2 separate regions of the Homo sapiens genome follow, and region 2 is linked to region 1. Evidence: fine-mapped expression QTL. Tissue or cell type: subcutaneous fat. Region 1 holds a variant in brackets; the other region holds the start of a gene. All regions are shown on one strand. Distances are from middle to middle.

Evidence for each region. PIP is the estimated chance that this variant, and not a neighbour inherited with it, causes the effect.
Region 2: RGS7BP starts here. The variant in region 1 is fine-mapped to the expression of RGS7BP in subcutaneous fat (GTEx, PIP above 0.99).

Annotation. Positions count from the first base shown.
Region 1 is chr5:64,583,079-64,585,840 of GRCh38, forward strand. All of the region lies in intron 3 of RGS7BP (regulator of G protein signaling 7 binding protein), which reads left to right. Among named protein-coding and RNA genes, the nearest start is that of RGS7BP, 78 kb to the left of the region's middle. The variant G/C (reference allele first, on the strand shown) is at 1,593.
Region 2 is chr5:64,504,447-64,507,208 of GRCh38, forward strand. It overlaps RGS7BP (regulator of G protein signaling 7 binding protein), which reads left to right and starts at 1,569. Exons shown (of 6, transcript NM_001029875.3): 1 at 1,569-2,343. The coding sequence starts at 2,179.

The sequences.
Region 1 (2,762 bases):
ACTGCAGTGATTAAGACTGAAGAGGTAGGCCAGGCGCAGTGGCTCACTCCTGTAATCCCAGTACTTTGGGAGGCCGAGGCAGGCAGATCGCTTGAGGTCAGGAGTTCCAGACCAGCCCGGCCGACGTGGTGAAACCCTTGTCTCTAGTAAAAATACAAAAATTAGCCAGGTGTGGTGGTGGGTGCCTGTAATCCCAGCTACTCAGGATACTGAGGCAGGAGAATTGCTTGAGCCCAGGAGGCAGAGGTTGCAGTGAGCCGAGATGACGCCACTGCACTCCAGCCTGGGCGACAGAGCAAGACTCCATCTCCCCAGAAATGAAAAAGACTGAACAGGTTTCTGTTTCTTGTGAAATATATATTCTAAGGCAAAGGGAGAGAGGAGAAAGAGAGACAGACAGAGCAGAGGTAGGGGGAGGGAGAAGAAAGAGAGGAGGGGAAAAGAAAGAACAGAAATAAACAACTTTTCTAAAAGTTCCAAATACTAATAAGTGCAATGAAAATAATTGAAATAGAATGGATGATGATGTAATAGAAAGTGACTGGGTGGCTACTTTGGAAGGGCTGGTCAAAGTTCTCTAAGGAGATAAAATTTAACCTGAGACTTGAACGACAAGAAGGAAACAATTTCATGAACATTCGTATTACCAATGACCAGAATAAGCATGTAGTGTTTGAAGAATATAAACATAACTAACTTCTGAAATCCAAGGATAATCTAAAGCCTTCTTCTACTCTATCTCCATGTCTTCATATACCAGTGAGTAGGACACTATTTGTCACCTTTAGTCAATGTAGATGTTGGCTGAAGAATAGGATAATAGCAATGACAATAGCTTCCACTTACTGTGTACCTTCTACTTGCCAGGTGCATTATACACATTATCTTATTTTATCCTCAAGTATATTTTCCCCATTTTACACATGAGGAACTCAAAGCTCAATGAGGTAAGTTGCCCAAGGTCACATAGCACATTTATCTCACTACAAAGTTTGTGGTTGTTCCACTGCACTAGACCATTCTTACTAAGCTACATTGGAGAAGGGCAGGAGGGCATATCAAATGGAGAAATAAAGGATAGTAGCACAGTTAGCTGAATTCTATCTTATTTAATGATTAGTGAGCATATTTCAAAACCATGCTTAATAGCTAAAATCCATTGTATATTTAGTTTCTTACCAAAATAACACTAAGTTGGGAGAGGTATTTTCAAGGGTGGAGAGAATTTTAACTCCATATATCATCTTATTTACAAAATATGTAAAATGGGTGAAAAAGTTTAATTCTAAGAAACTATTACATATAGTAAAAGTAAATAAATAAAATGAAACATTCACGTGATCCAAAAGGCATAGGAGTTAGCCCTGACACCCAGTATGGAAAAGTCTGAATTAATTAACTGTAGAGTGAATACATCTTAGACACTGTGCTGCTCTATGTTAGGGGCTGGAAAGGGAGCACTCAGAGCCCCATAAGGATATCCTTTGAACGTATCTTCTATTGTTTGCTCTTCTCCTGTGTTCCAAGGGGGCTCTGTGCTTCTTACACAGCTACTTGGCACTACCATGAAGGCTGCTACTCTGGGGGCTGTG[G/C]CAGTGCCACAAGGAGCACAGAAGAGGCCAAAGGGCAGTAGGAGAAGGGGATGGTTTTGTATCTCTTCTGAACTGGAAAATGTTTATCTCCCAGTACATGGGAAGAATGGAGCTCCGGGTATGGCATAATTATTATTTTTTGCCATGTGTTTTATGGCCCTAAGAATATCTTCTTACCACAGTGTGGAAAAACCTTTGAAACTGCTTTTTAATATGGGTAAATGACTAACTGAATTAATATAATTTATTTCTATTTAAGTTACATGCTTTTTAGAAACACAAGAGAGTAAAAGTGGATTACTTTAAAAAACAGCCTATACTTCCCCAGTCCTTTTCACAGTGCACGGAGTTAAAAAGCACCTAGCAGTTATGAAAATGCATGAGAATTAGTATAACTGTTTGGATTCATAAGCATCCGTGAATCTAATGTAAGCCATGTTCATTTTGTTGTTCGCATTCAGTCAGTATGAAAACTGCCCTGCAAGCCTGTTCAGTGCATAGTGTCATAGCAGGTAATGTGTCAGGAGCACAAAGGATGTAGGAAATTTACTCCTGCCACCAAGGAAGTGATAGGGCACTGATACAGTATTATCCCAGAGAAGATTGGTTTATTCTGTTTTGATTCCTGGAGAAATTTACTCAAATGGATAAATTCACTTTACTGGACAACAGAGACCAAACTAAGGACATCCAAAAAGATATTATCTATGGCAGTGCCTTCCATTGTCACTGGCAAGCTGAAGACAGGCAGGAAAGCAAGAAGGAATGGAAGGGGCAAAGAAAAGAGGAGTGGGGAAAACACGAGTGGAGGAGAAAGGATGGGAGAAATAAGAGATGAGAAGGAAAGGGGTCTCTAGAGTGGGTGTGATAAAGGACTCCCAGCCCACTCCTCTGGTGCCTGTGCCAAGGACTCCTAAAGCTGCGAGTGCTCTATTGCACCCCTGAGACTGCCCCACAATCAGATGTGTTTTTGTTTCTCGTGAATGACCGGCAATTTCTCACGAATATAAGAATAACCAACCTTTCAATTTGTTATGTGCTTCATGGGTGGCTTCCCTTAAATTTTCCTCAAACATGCCTATTACATTATCCATAAACAAGCTAAAAATACATAGAAATCCCCAAGGAGCTGAAGGCTAAAAGCTTTGCAAGACTTTAAGGAAAGTGGCC
Region 2 (2,762 bases), 79 kb before region 1:
CCACAGGTTACCAACTCTTCTCTCCATCTTGGCGACAAATTCAGGGGTTCCTATAACCACCTTCTCAGATTTGGTAATTCACTAGAATGACTCACAGCACTCAGGAAAGAGCTTTACTTACTATTAGCAGTCTATTCTAAAGGATACAACTGAGGAGCAGCCAACTGGAAGAGAAACATAGGGCAAGGTATGGGAAAAGGACATGGAACTTCCATGCTCTTTCCTGGTGTACCACCCTTCCAGCACCTAGATGTCTTCCACAACCCAGAAGCTCCCCACACTCTATTGTTGTTTAGGAGTTTTACAGAGGTTTCTTTATGTAGGCATGATTGATTAAATAATTGGCCATTGGTGAGGAACGCAGTCACTAGCTCCTCTCCTATCCCCTGAGATTGGGGGATGAGGCTGAAAGTTGCAAGCAACTAATCAAGGCTTGGTCTTTCTGGTGACAAGATGGCTTATCATAATAACTCAGGCAATTTCTAAGGGTTTTAGGAGTTCTGCCCTAGGGACTGGGGACAAAGACCAAATAACTCTCTTATTATAGTACCCCATTATATTTACTTGTCTTGTAGAAAAGGTTGTAAAGCCACCCTCCTTAGGATATTAACCTTCCTGGCTATTTCAGGCTTTCTCTTTCTATGTACTCTCCATATCCCTTTAACAGACTGACCAGGAACCTCTAATCTGTTCTTATTAGGATTACTAATACATAACTAGTTTTCCTATGGGAGACCCCTTTATCTCCCTCTCCAAACAAATCATTCAGGAGAACAAGCATCCTTAGAGCCTTAGAGTTGAATGCCACAACACTCTCTCTTCCTCCCAGAAGAACCTTAGGAAGATGTCAGTGGGAAGGGTGAACTTAAATGGCTGAGGGCCTCACCCCCACTCCTTTCACACAAGAATCATCCCCGATTTTCTGGGCCACCTCTGTTGGCCTCTGGGTTACTGATATCCCATAAGTGAGAAGAAGGTCATTTTGAGTGTCCAGGGAGATCTCTTGGCTCTTATTTGTTCAAGTCTCCGGAAGGGAACTCTAGGAGCTGAGTCCTGAGACCCTGCAATGCAAGACCAAGAGCTTTACTACTTGAAATGGGATGGGGATGAGGCCCAATCTGAGTGAATGCCTCTGTGCATTCTGCCTCACTGGCTCTCCTCTTTCCCCCTCCATGAACAAGGACAAAATAAAAACAAAACAACTCAGGGAAACAAAGCTCTCCTTTTAGGTTATCAAGAGGTCTTCCATTTGGAGCAAAACCTCACTCCCTCCTGTGGCCCCTGTCTCAGTCTCAGTTGGTGAGGGCCTCAAGCCCACACTGGCTTATTTGAAATCCATGTTTAGGTCCCAGCATGTGGCATGTGCTCCACTCTGATGACACTTTTCGTTTCTAATAATAGAGCAGATGAAGTAATATTGCAATTGATGTTCCCGGGGATTTGATTGGATAAGTGCATAAACTGTGGAGGGGGAAGGGGGTTGCATGGACAGATCACATTAGTATTCCCGTCCTATCAATGTGCGGGCCCGCGAACAACGTCAGCCGGACCGATTCTCTGCGTCTGCCAGTCCCGCCACAGATTCATCTGGGATCTTCAAACAGACAAGCCCTTAGAGACGAGGGATCAAGGCAGCCGATTAGAGCCAATTGCTTGCTTTGGGGACGGCCAGTCCTTCCAGGCCTGGCGACAGTGGAGGGAGGGGAAAGACGAACCGAGTGCCGCTGCGGGAAGACACTGAAGCAAGAGCGACACCCCTTTCCGCCCCCCACCTTGCAGCGCAGGCTTTGAAAGCTGCTCCCCCACCTGAATGGAAACTCGGAACCGCCGGGCGGCGCGTTCCTTCTCGCCCAGCCTTGCAATCCATGCCGAGAGGAAGGCAGTGCGAGCCCGCGCCAGCGCCCAGCTCCCGGGACAGGGTCGGCAATGCTGCTGAGCAGAACTTGATCGCGCTCCTTCCTCGCTGCTAGTGGAAGCGATGCTGCACGGCACAGCTAGCGCTTCCCCGGCTCTCCTTCAAGCTGAAGGTTACCGACCCGCGCAGCCAGCCCCAGCACTGTGAGCTGCGCGCCTCAGGTCCGGGCTCCGGCTGCTTGGCGGCGGCGCCCAGGGCAACAACCGGGCCGCCCGCGCCGGGGCGCACTGCACCAGCGGCTTCGGCTTGGTGGATGTGTATGCATGAGTTCTGCACCGAATGGGCGCAAAAAGCGCCCCAGCCGGTCCACCCGCTCCTCGATCTTCCAGATCAGCAAGCCCCCGCTGCAGAGCGGAGATTGGGAGCGCAGGGGCAGCGGCTCCGAGAGCGCCCACAAAACCCAACGAGCCCTGGACGACTGCAAGATGGTGGGTGAAAACTGCGCCTCTTTTTTTTTTTTTTTAATTGAGAGGGGGTGGGGGGAGTCATGTATGTTAATCATTTGCCTGAGTGCCAGCCACTCCCCCACCCTCAGCTCCTCAATGCCGATCACGTGGCACATGCACTATTTTTAAATCTGCAGTCCCCCAAATTCAGGGTGACACCCTGGTCGTAATAACCCTGCAGAAAGAAGTGTGACAGCAAGGGTCTTGGGGATCAGCGGCTGTAGGTTGTGCCTGTACCCCCTCGAAGAATGGTGGATGCGAAAGACACAGTGAACTGGCTCGCTCACGGAGGAGGGAGGGATGAGGAGGTGGGGATGCTGCTTTCTGGGGACAGAGTAGCAAACAAACCCAAATACAGCGCACGGGGCGCTGCGGAGGGGTCGAAGGTTCCAGCGCAGAGG